Linked DNA regions of Homo sapiens: region 2 is linked to region 1. Evidence: fine-mapped expression QTL. A gene starts in region 1. The other region holds a variant in brackets. All regions are shown on one strand. Distances are between the middles of the regions.

Region 1 (9,141 bases):
ATATATAGATTGTGTGTTTGTTAAACTGAAGTAGAGTTAATTAGCTTAGGTAAACATTGATGAGCACTTGGCTGGCACTCAATACATCTGTTAAGAAATGAATGTACTTGGGAAGCAAGTCAGTGTTTTAGAATTTGAAATTATATAATATATATTTATAATTATAGCATATATTTATATATAATTTATTATAATATAACACAAATGTATACTATGATATATATTATATATAATATATAGTATATATAATATATAATTTGTATGTTATAATTATATATATTTTATATATATATCAGAGGTAGGAACAGAATTATTTGTTCCCACTTGGTTATTCAAAACTAGCAGTATTACTCCAAGGCACTTGACTACTATTTGCAGTGGTAATATGAATGGAGCAAACAAATGGTCAAGTACTTTGTGGTAATACTGCTGATTTTGAATAGCTATATGGGGACAAATAATTCTGTTCCTACTTCTGTTACTTAGAGATATAGAAACTAACTTTGAGAATATTTTCTTGGCCGGGCGCGGTGGCTCACGCCTGTAATCCCAGCACTTTGGGAGGCCGAGGCGGGCGGATCACAAGGTCAGGAGATCGAGACCATCCTGGCTAACACGGTGAAACCCCGTCTCTACTAAAACTACAAAAAATTAGCCGGGCATGGTGGCGGGCGCCTGTAGTCCCAGCTACTTGGGAGGCTGAGGCAGGAGAATGGCGTGAACCCGGGAGGCAGAGCTTGCAGTGAGCCAAGATCGTGCCACTACACTCCAGCCTGGGTGACAGAGCAAGACTCCGTCTCAAAAAAAAAAAAAAAGAGAGAATTTTTTTTAATAAAATGTTTCTTTACAGATGAATATATATTTGTTTCTTGGGCCAAGTAAAACAGTAAGTACAAAAAGAAATGTTTCTAAACATGTAGCCACCGGCAATCCTTGATTATGTCTAAAACCACTGTCTTCCAGAGTCAATATAGCAAAGACTTAGTTACCCCGAATTCTCAGAGTTTGGGGTATAGTATAATTTTCTGGGAAGGCTTATATAAAATTATTCCAATTTTTTTTTTTTTGGAGGACTGGGAAATAGAGGACTGGGAATTTGAGCAAATTTTGAGGAATCTTAAATTGCTATTAGGACACCAATATGACGCAGCAATCAATCATTATTTTCTAGGACTCTGGTTACCAAAGTTATAGACAGCGAGCCAATTCTCCATTATTTTGGCAAAAGATAATGCAAATTTATGTTATTGTTTGCTAGTTGATTTGATTCACTGCCTAAAATAAACTGATTCCTTCTGTTTTAAAAAATCCATTTTGAAGTCACACACAACAAAAATCATTCAGTTAGTTGAATTTGCTTTATAATTAGACTATGAGTGAAGACACCAGATATTTTAAAAAGCAATCCAAATGACTGAGTTTAGAAAATAAAATGAGATTACAGCACCTCTTGAGAGTGTCTGAGGAGGCCTCTTTTCCTTTTTTATTGCAATGGCAAGGTTGGAAGAAACTGTGACGAGTAAGAGGCAGAGACCCAAAGCTGAGTGTAGCATCATGTCTTCTAGAGACTCTCTCAGAAGAAGCTAGATGACAGAAAGGAATTCTCAGAATCCAGTGAATTACTTCAAGCTATTATTAGAAGATATTTGCTAAGAGTTGGACCAATACTGTGATGACAGACTGTTCAGCTTTTTTGGTTTGACATGGTATAACCAACCACATAGAACTTTCATTCACATTTTATTTTTAAAATACTTAATCAACTCAGTACATGCTCAGTTGGTGAGAAGTCATGTTCTGAGCCTCCTGGGCATGGTGCTGTATAATTAAAAAAGAGCTGGATCAGGGCACACGAAGCCTGCTTCTGAACCGCCCTGTAGTGTTCACACCAACAAGACGAAACTCAAATAAGATCATGTTGTTTGATGTCTTGTAAACTATGAAGTGACTTTTAGCATGCAGAAATATTCTTTGCCTTTTGATTCTCCTTCATCTAATAGGTCAAAATATTTTAACTCTATACTAAGATAAGATTATACATGAATAAATATTGCTTAAAATAGAAATCAGAGGAAAAATAGAATATGGAGGATTCTTGTCCTTCAGTTCCTTTATAGTTTCTTACCTTTCTCATCCTTCCAACAATTACTCAGACTTTTGCCCTTCAGTTTATGATACAGCTCTTTATAAAAATCAAGTACTATCATATTACTATAAATTAGACATATGTATAGAGAAGAATAGACTGTCATGATTACATTCTCTCCTGGTTAGCTAGAATTCAAACTGATTCTTAACTCAATGTGCATCTTTTATACTTTGCACGTTAAGATAAAAACTGAAGTCCAAAGTTGGGCCTGATCTGGTCATAAACCACTTGATAAATATATTACAGGAAGTCTTTAATACTTGTGAGATGTTTAGTTACAGCATTAGCATATAAAACTGATTTGAAAATGGTTGACTCATGCAGTTTTGAAACTTTACCTCAAAATATAAAATAAATATACAGACATCATTCACATTGATTTGAAGTTCCTTTAAGACGTCTTTCCTATTGGCTTACATTATTTAGTATTGAACTCATCACCAAAATAGTAAAATTTCCTTAGCCAAAATGGCTAGTGACTGATTCTTTAGTGATTCTGTTCAAACAAAGATGTTGCTATATTTTATTGTAGTAGGCATTGTGGAAAATGAAAAGATATATAAGACACAATGTTTTGGCATTGGTAAAACATTTGGCAATTTTAATCACCTAGTTATTGTAAAGTAGCAACCGCAGTCGTGGAGGAGAACAACAATTTGGTGGTAAAGAAGTTTACAGATTCTAGATTTCTCCAGACATTTCCTCATTCCTCCCATTATACTGTTTTCCCCTTCCCAGTGGTGTATCTATTGCAGCCCCTCTATGGACTGAAAATAGTTACCACTCCAGGTTAACCTTACTTTATTTCCCTCCCTAATCCCCAGTTGTCCCTCCCTCCTTCCCTTCCCCTTCCTTCCTTCCCCTTCCTTCTTTCCCCTTCCTTCCTTCCTTCCTTCTTTCCTTCCTTCCTTCCTTCCTCTTTCTCTCTCTCTTTCTTTCTTTTCTTTCTCTCTCCTTTCTTTCTTTTTTTTTTTTTTTTGCTCTTGTCACCCAGGCTGGAGTGCAGTGGGGCCATCTCCACTCACTGCAACCTCCGCCTCCCAGGTTCAAGCGATTCTCCTGCCTCAGCTTCCCAAGTACGTGGGACTACAGGTGTCCACCATCATGCCCGGCTAATTTTTGTATTTTTAGTAGAGATGGGGTTTCACCATGTTGGCCAGGCTGATCTCAAACTCCTGACCTCAAATGATCCAACTGCTTCGGCCTCCCAAAGTGCTGGGATTACAAGGGTGAGCTACATCGCCCGGACTCCTTTCCTCTCCCCTCCTTTCCCCTCCTTTCCCCTCCTTTCCCCTCCTCTTTCCCCTCCTCTCCCCTCCCCTCCCCTCCCCTCCTCTCCCCTCCTTTCCCCTCCTTTCCCCTCCTCTCCCCTCCTTTCCCCTCCTTTCCTGTCCTTTCTTTCCAGGCATATAAAAACCCTGTTAAACAATTATCACGGTGCCTGATAAGAATTTCAGTTTAAGTTCTCATAACTTATTAAACCATAAAACATTTCAGAATGTCATCTTGTACCTTAAGGCCTTGGTCATCTTGTACTTTAAAGACTGAAACAAATACAGGGTGGATTTTAGTACAGGACAGGGACAGTTGACTCTGGAACACAAAGCTCAACCCAGGGAAGGCAGCCTTAGTTAGACAGGTTGGGAGTTGCAGTGGAGGAACTAAAGCAACCACCTAGGACAGGATCTTAACCTGGATCCAGCAGGCTTCTAGAAGGCCTGTGGCTGAGCTACAGAAGGCTCAAAACCCCTGGAAATTGTGTGCAAAATTTTATCTGCCTCTGTTCCTTTTCCGTGGGAATAGGGTCCAAAACGTCATTAAAATTCTTCCAGGGATCTTGGATATAAAGAAGAGTTAAGAAAAGTCAATCTGGAAGGAATCTTTAGAAAGATTTTTCTATGTTAGCTACAGAGACAAGCAGGTGGAATCTGCATTTTAAAAAAGAAAAAGCATAACCTCATCATTTTTGCTATTTTAAAGCTGCGAAGCTTAGAGTTAAGCGGGAACCATTTTTTCTTTAAAATTTCAAGTCTTTATGTATTATTGTCAAATACTTTCTAATTAAAAAATAAAAATCTTGGTTTTCTGGTTTTACATTGATAAATTATAAAATAGATATTAAATATATTCTGTGACAAAGCAGTACAACTTGTACACTGTAGATTTTGAATAAATAACGCTTTCCTTGGTAAAATATAGTGTAAACTGCTGAGGGTCCTTTAGTATCAGTTGCAAGGTTAAGCTACTTGGGGGAACACAGATAAATGTGGCATGGTTACAGGCCTACAGCAGCTTAAAATGCATTTGGGAGGCACATAACCATATGTCAGCAATTAGATTGTATAAACATTGGTCAATTAGCATTTTATGACATTAGTATTTTATTTTTCAAAAGTAATTTAACGTAAGTAACTGATATTATAAGTTCCTATATTTTAAAATAAAACAAGACTTAAAAGAATATAAAGAAGAGCTATCATTACTTGTAGAATACTTTTCAAAGAGTCGTTTTTGTGGTTGACGTCAATTTATTCTAATACCATTAATATAAATAGAGATAAAACTATGAAACCAGCAAAGGAAATCCAGTTCAGTAAAAGAAGAAAAATAAAAATTCATTTCACTTTCCTACCCTTTACTGAAAGCTTCACTTTTAAATAGCAAAAGGTGATTATTTAAATATAGCAAAGCTTGACCACTGATTAAGTAATCTGGAAAATTTGCTTGCTTACCTGACTTGGCCAGTGCTCTTGTTGGAAATGTATTCTGGATGTTTCTGGTTAAAAATGGGTGTGGATTTATAGACACACACACACACACCTGACCTACAACCTCACCTGCATAGAAACAAGAGCATAGTTACCGGAAAACAAACTTAGAAAAATAGGCTGGTCTGAAAAACTCTGTACTTCTTTCCAGTTCTCATGCTTCTCACACTAAAAAAGCTCTATTCTTTTTCTCTAAATTAAGATTGAATGTCCTCATAAAATAAGGTCAAATACCATCTTTGTGCTTCTTTCTCTTTTACCTTTTATTTCCCAAGGTAGTTTAATGTTTGGCTGAAGTTCAGCACAAAAAAAAAAAAGAAAAGGAAGAAAGAAAACGGAATGAATTTAAGAACTGTGTGCATGCCATTGTTCAAATAGAAATTCCTAAGGGTTACTCTGTTTACAGGAATATAATTAACAGCTAAAGAGATTGGGTCCTTTTTTTTTTGAGAGAGAAGGAAATAAAAATTCTGTTTTAAAGTTGAACATTTTCATAATTTGATTATTCTTTACAATTTTTCTATAAAACCTTTACTGCACAAAAAATTAGAAAAACAGGCCATTAGATAAGTTTAAATTTATCTAATAGTTAGATACTGTTGAATTAATTGAGAGTAATTATTTAATTACTGTTAAAATAACGTAAGGCAGTGTGTCATCAAATTTGGCATACCTGTTTTTTGTACAGCCCAGGAAACAGGAACGGTTTTGACATTTTTAAACGGTTGGGGAAAAAAACCCAAAAGAATCATATTTTGTGACATGTGAAAGTTATATGAAATTCAATTTCAGTGTCCTTAAGTAGAGAGAGATGTGGCGGATGGCATGCAGCCATGTGCATTTGCTTACTAGTGTCTATGGCTACTTTTGCACTGCAACAGCAAAGTCCGGTACAGTCCAGGACAGTGGATACCAAAATCTGTGCACACTCAAAGTCCCATATCTGGCCCTGCGTAACCCACAGATATGAAAAGTTGGTCCTCCGCATATGCAGGTTTGGCATCCCGTGAACACAGTATTTTTGATCCACTTTTGGTTGTGGATACAGAACTTGCCCATATGAAGGAATATATTAAAAAAAAATCCTTCTCTAAGTGAACCCACACAATTCAAATCTATGTTGTTTAAGGGTCAACTGTGCTTGTGACAGGGACTGTATGATCTGCAAAACCTAAAATATTTACTATCTTTAGTAAATGTTTACAGAAAATGTTTGTTGAACCTTAATCCAGGGTATTGTTTATAAATTCCTTCCTTCCTTCTTTCCTTCCTTTCTTCCTTTGCTTCCTTTCTTCCTCTCTCCCTCCCTCCCTTCCTCTCTTCCTCCCTTCCTCTCTTCCTCCCTTCCTCTCTTCCTCCCTTCCTCTCTTCCTCCATCCCTCCATCCCTCCATCCCTCCCTTCTCCCACCCTTTTTTTGTTTCTTTTTTTTGTGGGGAAGGGTCTAATTGCTCTGAATACATTAACAAATATACTGTGCAAGAATGGGAGTGATGATTGTCTTGCTCCTGATGTTAAAGCGGGTGTGCTTCCAGTATTTTAACTTTAGATGTAGTGCTGGATTTGGCTGAGTTGACCATGTTAAGAAGGTAACCATTATTCTTAAACTACATCTCTTAAAAGCAGGACTGTTGGATTTTGTTCTATAAAGATGGGCATATGGATTTTCTCATTTGTTATAGAAAATTTTACTGTTTTCCTAATTAAACTTTCCATTGTCCTGAAAGAAACTTCATGTAGCTAGGTTGTATATTCTTTAACTGTACTGCTGATTTGTGTACTTGTCTAACTGTGCTTTCTTCCTTACATAGGATTCTCAAAGGGACCCTTCCCTGGAACATGCTATTCAAATGGAATCCTTCTTGCTGAAGGTTATGAAACTTGACATATAATTTTAATTTTAAATCCAGCCAGCCTTTGCAAAGCAAAGAAATGGCTGGGCAATAATCCTTATATTTCTCTGTTAGTGAAAAGTCTGGGAAAGCTTTCAACTTCTTGTTGACTGAGAGTGGTTACGGAAAAATCTCCAAATATTCTGCATCCCTGTTAAACTTCTCACATAATATTCATTTAAATAAATTATAAGATAAGAGTGAGAAAGAGGAAGTCGAGTACCTGTGGGGTAGTGAAACTAGACCCTATAATGTCTGAGCTGATCAGTGTCTTTTGGTCTCTCCCACTAGGGTGATAATGCAATGTGTCCTCTAACCCAGGACAATTTTGAAAGTAAAAGGAGGTAATAAAGTCATTGGAATTATAGCATCTTAAAATAATATTTTGAAATATATATTTGTCATCCAAAATTTGTTTTATTGTGTAATAGATCACAAATGGTTCTATGAAAGATTATTCTTAGAAGTAAAATTATTTAAAGTATATTCATGTACATGATGGCAAATTATACAAATTATTCTTTGTATATAATTATGTTAATCATTTTCTTAACTGTACCTATCTGATACCAGGTGGCTGGTATTTTTCTGGCATTAACTGTCTTTATTTTTTCAATGTGACCTCATATTTATTTTTTCATAAAATTGCCTGCAATAATCTTCAAAATCAATCTTACGGTTAATGGATTTGGAATTGTCAACAGCTTCAATTGACTCTTCCTGTAGGTCATATTACATCCTATTTTTAATTAAGAAAATAATTTTTCTATAGCCGATGGGTTACCCAGTAATTTGAGAAAGTTCAGTTCACTGGAGGACAGTTTTAATTCTAATTTTAATCTTACTGAAATATTATCTCAAATATTGTCTTTTAGCCTCTGCTTAGAGTACCTTCTTCAACAGAAAATTTTACAAGATAAAACAAGTAACATAAGTCATCTTGCCTTATAATTATTTTAAATGTTTCATTAAATTTCCAAGCTACAAAATTGTAGGGCCTCTCTGTTTCATTCTATTCAGGAACAGAATATAAGTGTGTCTAATTATATACTCTTTTAATAATAAATCAAGCTGTTTTGCTCTTGGAGTTGATTCTTTTGAGGGCATTGTTCTATATTTTTACAAGTTTAATTGGTCACATAAATCATTGGTTAAATATAGGATTAGGATTACCTATTCACTTTGTGTGTGTGTGTGTGTGTGTGTGTGTGTGTATGTGTCCATCTGTTTGTCTGTATTTCAGTTTATCAGTCTCTTACTAAGAAAATATATATACATTTTAAAAGGCTGACAGTGGAAAGTAGGTATTCCTCTTGCCCAGTCTATGGGTCTTCTTGAGGCAATAACGGTTTATACATCTACCTATTTATGTTTGTATATTAACACAAATGGTGCCATTCAATGAATACTTCTGAACCTCTTTTTTATGTAATAATATTGAAGATTGTACCATATTAGGACAGGTATTTGTGAAACTATTCAGTAAATGAAAGAGAATAATGTCTTGCAGAGAGCATTTATGTATCACTGTTTTCTAAATCCTGTAGAGGCAAATAGTTATTTTTAAAAATATTGGGTTTGGAGAAAAAAGACTCTTTGGGTTAAAGGAATAGATACCTCCAGAATTCATTATTGAGCTGTGCAATTTTATACCAAACATTTAAATGCATAGTGTTTTTATAAGCCTCTCATAATCAATGTCTGTAACCTACAGGTTCTTGCTCTGTCAAAATTAGTTACACTTCCCATTGCAAAACAATAATGTTTTATTTCCATTAAGCATAAAGTCTCTGAACTTGCAGGGTATTACATCTAAACACTTGATAAACCTGTGGTATTTTTACAATATAAATATAAATGAGATTTATTCCTTGGTATTTGCCCTGTGAGCTAAGTAAGATTAAGTAGAATTGTGCATGTAGCTTTTGGATTAGAGATTCAAGTCCTTCAATCAGGCTCTTACCTGTAGCTTGTCGTGATAACTTTGTACTTTTTCCCATAAAAATGCTTTTATATCTTAAACAGGCATATCATTTTTTCCTGCCATGGTGGAGATCAGGGACTCAGCCTGGCCAGTTTCCTCAGCCCAGGTCAGGGAGGGCCTGTTTTGGAAGACATGAATAAAATTAAAATGGATTGTGCAGAGCTGGGAGGCAGCCATGGTAAATCTGAAGTGAGATCCCCAAATAGTTCTCAAGTAGATGAAGAATAGATACAGAAAATGGGAAGAAGAAAGCAGAGCCAGAGAGTAACAGAAGCAGGGAAAGGAGGGAGACAATAACGGGTGTGGGGAGGAAAGAGTGGTAGGGCTCTTGAGTGATGTGTGGGGCATT
Region 2 (9,141 bases), 24 kb after region 1:
GTGCAGTTTTTATGCTGTTAATATATAGGGCTATTCCATCATCACAAAAATCTCCCTCATACTATCCTTTTATAGTCACCCCATCCTCTTCCCTCTTTCAACTCTAAGCCATGACAACCACTAATCTCCATTTATGGCCTTTAACCTTCCTCTTCTTATAATACAATTATCTTAAAAATTTACTCTATATAAATTAAGAGCTACTTCAGTGTTCTAATGTTTGCTTCAACCTTGAAACATAATTTAGAAAACTCAAGAAGTTAAGTCTGTTGTATTTACTTATATTCTTACTCGTTCTGTTGTTCTTCCTGATGTTCTCAGATTCTATCTTTTATTATTTCCATTATATTTCAAGAACTTCCTTTAGCCATTCTTTCAGGGTAGGTCTGCTGGCAACAATTTCTCTTTATCTGATTTTGATTCCCCATCTAATTTTTAAAGGGTATTTTCACTGGATGGAATTTTGTATTGATAACTTTTTTCTTTCTGCTCTTGAAAAATGTTCACTATAGTGTCTGATGATAAATCCGCTGTCATTTGAATTGTTGTCACAAATTAATTGATAATGTATTTTTTCCCTTTAGGTAATGTATAATTTTTCTCTCTAGATTTTTTTCTTTGTATTTAGTTATTTAGAATTTTTTATTATGATATGTCTCTAGGAGGAGTTCTCTGGGTTTTTTTCCGTTTGAGATTCACTCAGAATCTTAAATCTGTGAATTTCTGTCATTTACATTTTTGGAAATTTGTTAGCCATTATTTATTTTAATATTCTTCTAGCCTTACCTTCCTTCTCTTCCAAAATTCCAATGACATGGATGTTAGATCTTTTGTTATGGTCTCACAGGTCCCTGAGGCTCTGTTTATTTTTTGCCAGTCAATTTTCTTTTTGTTGTTTGGAGTGGGTCATTTATTTTGTTCTATCTTCAAGTTCACTGATTCTTTCTTCTGTTTTCTCCATTCTGCTGTTGAGCCCATCTAGTTAGTTTTAATTTTTGTTACTGTATTTTTCAGCTCTAAAATTTCCTTTTGATTTTTTAATAGCTTCTATTTATCTATTGAGACTTTTTCTTTTCTGTCTTTTTTAAAAAGTTTGTTTTTATCACGTTTGTAATTGCTCATTAAAGGATTTTTATTATCACTGTTTAAAAATCCTTGTCAGAGAATTTTAATATTTCTGTCATCTATCGATTGTCTATTTTCATGCAGGTTGATACTTTTCTGGGTCTTAGTATGATGCATGATTATTCACTGAAACCTGGACATTTTTGGTGTTATGTTATGAGACTATCTTAATAAATTTTCTGTTTTAGCTGTCCTCCTCTGATTCCACTCTTGTAAGGGTAGGGAATTAGGAAATAATGCCCACTTATTTTTGGGGGAAGATGAAATTCCAGTTTCCCCAAATGGCCTCAGTTGGCACCTAGGGCGGGAGTACTGATTCCCCACTATGCCTTGCTAATACCACTCTGCCTGAGAAGAATAGGAGGACTTTGCCACTTTTCCCCATTCAGCCTCCATGAGGCCACAGGGGAGATGACCTCATTAACACTGAGTGACGGTGAATGTCCCGACTTTCTACTAGGTTTCTGACGCTAACCCGGAGGTGAATGAAAAGAGTACTTTGTTATCACCTAGTGGGTGTGGAAGTCTAGGCTCCCTGTGTGGTCTTCACAGACACTGTGAGAGTAGACCTCACTGTGACCTCACGAATATAAAAATCCAGGTTTCTCCTTGGCCTTCTTTGACATCACTCTGACAGGTAAGTTGAGGTGATTCCTTCCAGCCTGGCAATGATAGGAATCTAGATTGTTTATTTGACCTGTGTTAGTGAGCGTGAATTTGTAGGGGTTTTTCTTCTACGGTACTTAGGTGGAGTAGAGTAGATATTGTCTAAAAATGTTCTGTATTTCTAGGTTGTCCCTTTCCTGCTCTTTGGTTACATTAACTGACTTTTGTTGAAATTTCTTGTTGATCAGCTCCTGCTGGTGTTTTTGACTTGCTGCCTTCTTCAACACTAAGTTTGGGATATAAGAGGATAAAAAAAATTCCCAAAACTCACGAGCATAATCTTTTTCAAGACCAGAGGTCTCTAACTTGTCGGCTTTCTTCTCTCCATGTTTCAGAGTCATCGTATGCTAGTTTTATATATAAATGTCCTGACTGTTTAGTTGCACTTATTGGGAATAGTAGAAAAAAGTACTACTTCTACTCCATATGTGCAGAAGTGGAATGAAAAACTTCTGATTATGGAATTCAGTTTAGTTAAGTTGATATTCTATGCAGCTTTTCTCTTTCTCCTTGGGTCAGTTATTGTAATATGAATATTTTAAGGAATTTGACTATGTCATGTATATATTCAAATTTGTTGGAATATAGTTTTTCATAAAGTTATTTTCTTATGCTTAAAATCTCTGCCATAATGTCGCTTTTTCTCTAATATTGGCAATTTGTTTCTCTCTTTTTTCTAGATAAGTCTATGTTGTAGTTTATAAATTTTATTAATCTTTTTATTGAACCAACTTTGGTTTCATTGATTTTTCTCTATTTTCAGTTATATATTTTACCGGTTTACACTTTATTATTTCCTTATTTCTGATTCCTTTCTATTTAATTTGCTCTTCATTTTCTGACTTCTTAAGGTAGGAGTTTAGGCCACTGATTTCACATCTTCTTTTCTAATAAAAAGATTTAATTCACAGATTTCCCTTTACACACTATTTTAGCTGCATCCCCCCAAATTTTGACCTTTTCAAAGAATTTTGATTCAGTTCAAAATATTTTCTAAATTTCTCATCTTTTTTTCCTTTTTTACACATTAGTTGGTAAAATGTGTTAATTTCTAAATATTGAGAATTTTTTGGGTATATTTTGATTATTGATTTTTAATTTCATTTTGATGTTTTGAATTATTTCTGACAAAAAATCTATGATAATACTTAGATTTATTCTTTTTTGGGTGTGTATATATATAAATATATAAACATATAGATATATATCACAGATATATAACAAAAAGATATATGTTTTGTTGTTCTTGGGTAAGGTGGTCTATAAATATTAATTAGATTAGAGTGGTTGATAGTGTTCAGATTTTCTATGTCCTTATTTGTATTTTGCCTACTTGATCTATCAGTGGTTGGAACAGATGTGTTGAATTATATTTCTACATGTTTAAACCCCATAATACATTGAATTATTTTTGCTTTATACTCTCAATTACTATTTAGAGAAATTAAAACAGATTTAAAAAATCCTACATACTTACTATTTTAAGCTTTATTCACTCCTTTGAGTAGAACCAAGTTTTCATTGTGATCATTTTCCTTTTGCCAAAAGAATGCCCTTAACTACTTGCTTGAGTGCATGTTTGTGGCTGATAAATTCTTTTCACTCCCACTTTTGAAAAATGTCTTTATTTTGCCTTTTGTTTTTTAAAGACTGTTTCTTTAAAAGTGGATTTAGAATTCTAGATAGACATTCTTTTCTTTCAGCACCGTAGGATATCATTACATTGTTTTTTGTGTTAAATCGTTTCTGACACAAAATTTATGACAATACTTAGATTTATTCTTTTTAAAATATTGATTCCTTTAGTTCTGTCTGGTTTTTATAATTTTTTATCACTATTTTTCAGAAATTTGACTTGCTGTGATTGACTTTGAGTTCTTCCTGCTTGGGATAAATTGAGTTTCTTGTATACTGAATTTAAAATTTTACCAAATTTGGAAACATTTTCAGCCATTATATCTTCAACTTTTTTTTTTTCACTTTCTTTCCTGTCTCTCTTCTATCATTTTGTGAATGTTTATATAATATATAAATATATTTGTATTTGGCATTTCTTAGAATTGTCTGTACTCCAGTATGCATAGTTTCTGTTGTTATATATTGTCGTTTCTCATTTTTCCTGAAGTGTCTAATGTGCTGTTAATCATACCCCATGAAATTCTTATTTCAGATATTATATTTTTTATCTCCAACAGTTTCCTTTGATTATTTTTATATATTCTATTTCCCTATTTACTAGACTTATGTTTTTCTTTATATTCTTAAAATTATCCTATTTATATTTATAAAAGCTTGTTTAGAATTATTCTTCGTAAATTCTTTCATCACTGTCTTTCTTGGATCTGTTTATATTGATTGATTTTTTCCTGTATAGTGGTTAAATTTTCTGCTTCCTTACATGTTTGGTAATTTTTGATTGGATGACAAATATTTAAATTTTTACATTTTTGAGGGATTTAAAAAAAATTTATTTAAAATGTGTATGATCTTTTCATGACAGTCTTGATTATTACAGGCCATGTTTTTAAGCTTTTTGAAGGTGGTCCTGGTATAGCTTTTATTCTAGGGCAGTTTAGTCTCACTATTAAGGTGTGACCCAAGGGATTTCTTGTGAATGTTCGTATGTTCAATGAGGTCTCTTCACTCTGGCTGGTGGAAACTCAAACAATTCCCAGCCCTGTGTGAACTCAGTGAATTGTTTAGTTTA[C/T]AGATTCTTGATATTTGTTCTTTCCCAGCAGTAGTTCTTCTCTGGCCTCCTGGAATGTCACTTTATGTGTTTGTAAATTGGCATTCAGCCAAAGACTTAAGGAAAACCCTATGCATATTTCTGTAGTTCTTTCAGTATGTAACCCTTTCTATGCCTAACCCATCCTCTGGTCCACAATTTCTAACCCTCGTGGTCTCCCTGAACTTGAATCTTTTTCCCCTCAGCTCTGTTAATATTATCCTTGCTTGTGCTATGGTCCAGAAATTACCTCCAGGCAAAAAGCTCGGGTGATCGTAGAACTCACTTCATTGTTTATCCTCTCAGGAATTACCTCCTATATTGCCTATTGTATAATTCATGAAAAACAGTTGTTTCAGTATTTGTCTACTTGTCTTGTTGTCCAATCTCGTAACAGTTACTCCTTTATGAAAAGAAGTGAAGGTTTGTGCCTTATGCATAGTTAATGTTTACCTTATCCTTCTCTTCCTCTTTATTCCTAAATAATGCTCTTGGGTTTTTTTCCCCTCATCCTTTTAAATCTATGTAAAAATATCATATGTGCTACTTGCTTATTTCATTTATTCTATGCTAACATGTTTTACTGGTTACTTACTTACTTGCTACCTATACTGGACACATCTTACACATATTTCCCACCACATTTTTTTGCTCTTTATAGTAATTCTTTATATGTTTGAGGTTTAAAATTTTCAAGTACTTATTAAGAATTGTCTGGACAGCTAGTTTATGATAGATTTCTCCATAAATATACACATGTGGTTATTTTCTTAGATATAAGGAAAGAATATCTTTAAAATTTTTTAGTCAAAAAGGTCCCTGGTACATGATGAGACTCGTTCATTTTTCATTTTTGGTCAAGCATTATTGGCATGATCTCTTCCTACAGTGGTTCTTCAGGTCAAAGTTACTTTGTAATATTGTTCTGAGTCTTTTTTTGTGTATATAAATGATTTTCTCAAGCTGATTGAAATTTTGGAAAAAATGCTATCCTAGGTATTTTATTATGTATTTACTAAATCTCTTTGGCCTGGCTGGATGCAATTGTGAGAATAAAACTAAGCTTGAGTTACCCTTTTGCTATTATACTCTACCTTCCTTTACAGTGATCTGCTGGCCTCCCTGAGTTCTGATCCCTTTTTTTGAGATGTTTAAAACTCTCTTTGCTTATTTTGTTCCTTGCAAAGTAAAATTCTGACTTGGGTTAAGGGTGAAGTTTTCACTGGGCTATTGTACTAAAGGAGTGAATGTTTTGGTGAAGCTCAAAGAGGTTAAAAGCTTCTGTTTCTTCATGGTGTGTTCTGTTTGGCTACTCCTCTCAAAGGGTTTACATGAAGCAGACATGATAAAACAGCCCAAGGTGCTTTTTTCTTGGGAGAGCCTTATCAAGGAGATTGTGGTAGCTGGCTTAGCTCTGTTTTTCTCTTATTGAAATTTTCCTTGAGTTTATATATCCTTGATTCTTCCTGATAGAGTGGAAAAATGCAAAGGGTCAAGATATGGGTGCAAATTTAAAGGCCAAAAACACCATTAGTTACAAATGGCCAACAAATATATGAAAAAATGCTCAACATCACTAATGATCAGGGAAATGCAAATCAAAACCACAGTGCGATACCACTTTACTCCCGGAAGAATGGCCATAATCAAAAAACCAAAAAAACAGTAGATGTTGGCATGGATGTGGTGATCAGGGAACACTTCTACGCTGCTGGTGGGAATGTAAACTAGTACAGCCACTTTGGAAAACAGTGTGGAGATTCCTTAAAGAACTAAAAGTAGAACTGCCGTTTGATTCAGCAATCCCACTATTGGGTATCTACCCAGAGGAAAATAAATCATTATATGAAAAGATACTTGCATGTGCATGTTTATAGCAGCACGATTCACAATTGCAAAATTGTGGAAACAACCCAAATGCCCATCAATCAGTGAGTAAATAAAGAAACTGTAGTATATATACAGGATGGGATACTACTCAGCCATAAAAAGGAACGAATTTATGCATTTGCAGCAACCTGGGTGAAATTAGAGACTGTTATTCTAAGTGAAGTAACTCAGGAATGGAAACCAAACATCATTTGTTCTCACTGATATGTGGGAGCTAAGTTATGAGGATGCAAAGGCATAAGAATGATGGACTTTGGGGACTTGGGGGGAAGGGTGGGAGGGGGAGAGGGATAAAAGACTACAAATAGGGTGCAGGGTATACTGCTCGGGTGATGGTTGCATGAAAATCTCACAAATCACCAGTAAAGAACTTAACTTGTGTAACCAAATACCACCTGTATCCCAATAACCTATGGGAAAATAAAAAAGTAAAAAGGTAGAAAAACCAGTGAATTAAAAAAAAATTTGGTAATAAATACCAAGGAACTCAAAAAAAAAAAAAAAAAAAAAGGCTTAGAAAAGTCTTTACCAAAGCAGTTCAGTGTCTCACCAGAGCTGGCTGTTTTACATAAGATTTTGACTTCAATGCCTTATAGTACTGAAAACATACATTGTCTTGAGTGTCCACTTTCTGAATCTTCATAAACTAGTGCTGGTGGTAGCAGGTTGCCTGAAGCTTTAGCATTCCTTAACTTTGTTTACCTTAACTTTTCTTTTACTATGAAGACATGGGTAAATTTTAGCATAGTTTGACAGATTGTAGTTAGAATGTTCAAGATCCACATATTTAAGAAATAAAGTTCCTCATAAAGTTTAAAACTGACATCAGGAGCAGCTTCTGCTGTTAATACTACAACTTGCAAGTATTGTAAGTGCTAGGTGTAGTTAGTAAAATCTGGACTGATGAAAATAGTGATTCTGAAATTTTAGGTCAAAATTCCACGTGGAAAAACAAGTTTGACAATAGAGAATATCTTTATCTCTGCCTCTTGCTAGTAGAAAACTGGTACTAGCTAATTATTTTGGGGGACAAAAAATCTCATCTCAAAACAGGCAGCACTTTAATATGTTACACTTTGGATTTTGGATTGATGGTGCCATGAGTGGTGGATTGTACAGAAATTGATCACCAGGATTATTTTCTTTCAGTTTCAGCTTCAATTTTCCTTATGTGACTACAATTGGTATCCACCTGTCAACATCTAGGACCAAAGAGGCAATCAAACAAGGAATAAATTCCTAATTTCTCTCATTCCTCAACAGGCTATTAATTTAACTCTGATTTATTTCTTAGATATTCTCTAATTTCTGTAATTGTGTGTATGATTATATCCAAAGAGAGGAAAAAAATGACCAAGTGGTGCCGATTTGAGGGATTGACATGAGACACCCAAGGCTTTTATTTTTGGTCAGGGATCGTCAGTGGATAGTCATGAAGTCTTACTCCCAGTTGTCATTTCAGGAATTTAGAATAGAGGTCAGTCACTGCTGGAAACAAACGGAATTAGAGATTAGTGGTGTCACCAATGCAAATTCTTTAAAAAAGAATTTGTGTGTGCATAGTAGGTGCATATACTTATGGGGTACATGAGATATTTTGATACAGGCATACATTGTGTAATAATCATCTGGGCAAATGGGGTATCCATCATCTCAAGCATTTATCCTTTGTTTATTGTTACAAACAATCCAATTATACTTTTATTTTTACATGTACAATAAATTATTGTTGACTGTAATCACTCTGTTGTGCTGCAAATTCTGACTTTAAAAGAAAAATAGTTTATTTCAGATGCCAATTTCTCACCTCTCAATAAAATTGCTCTCTCAGATAAGGTGAATGCAAGAACAGAGTGGTAGCATTTACCTCTTTTTAAGAAAAAATTCAACTATTTATTTATTTGTTTTTTAAATTTTTGTGGGTAATTATAGGTGTATATATTTATGGGGTACATGAGATGTTTTGACACAGGTGTGCAACGTGAAATAAGCACATCATGAATAATGGAGTATCCATCCCCTCAAACATTTAGCCATTGAGTTGCAAGCAATCTAATTACACTCTTTAAGTTATTGAAAAATGTACAGTTATTATTGACTATAGTCACCCTGTTGTGCTATCAAATAGTAGGTTTTATTCATCTGTCAAACTATGCTAAATTTACCTGTGTCTTCATGGTAGAAAAAATTAAGATAAACAGCTCTTTATGTTCATGAGTTCAGTTGTGATTTTTAGATCCCATATATAAATATGGGATAACATACATTGTTTGTCTTTCACAACTGGTTGCTCATAGTAACCACCAATGATGCTTTGAATTTCTTCGATATCAGTTGTAATGTCTCCTTTTTCATTTCTGATTTTATCTATTTAGACCTCTCTTTTTTCTTATTTAGTCTGACTAAATGTTTGTCAATTTTGTTTAACTTTTCAGAAAACCAACTTTTCGTTTCATTGATCTTTTGTGTTGTTTTTTTCAATTTCATTTATTTCTGCTTTGATCTTTATTATTACTTTTGTTCTACTAATTTTGAGTTTGGTTTGCTCTTGCTTTTCTAGTTCTTTAAGACACATTGTTAGGTTGTTTATTTGAAGCTTTTCCTCTTTTTTTGATGTAGGCACTTACTGCTATGAACTTCCCTCTTAATACTATTTTTTGCTGTATCCCACAGGTTTTGGTATGTTTGGTTCCCATTGTCATTTGTTTTAAGAAATTTTTCAATTTCTTTCTTAA

Which allele goes with the higher level. Alleles are on the strand shown, and positions count from the first base shown. SD is a standard deviation of normalised expression in the study named.
In carriers of allele T in region 2, the expression in lung of the gene that starts at base 4,921 in region 1 tends to be lower than with C alone (small effect, 0.19 SD a copy in GTEx).

What was found.
Region 2: its variant is fine-mapped to the expression of AGR3 in lung (TOPMed, PIP above 0.99).

What each region holds. Positions count from the first base shown.
Region 1 is chr7:16,877,063-16,886,203 of GRCh38, forward strand. It overlaps AGR3 (anterior gradient 3, protein disulphide isomerase family member), which reads right to left and starts at 4,921. Exons shown (of 8, transcript NM_176813.5): 1 at 4,882-4,921; 2 at 1,448-1,583. The coding sequence starts at 1,556.
Region 2 is chr7:16,900,913-16,910,053 of GRCh38, forward strand. No RefSeq gene overlaps it. Among named protein-coding and RNA genes, the nearest start is that of AGR3, 24 kb to the left of the region's middle. The variant C/T (reference allele first, on the strand shown) is at 4,499.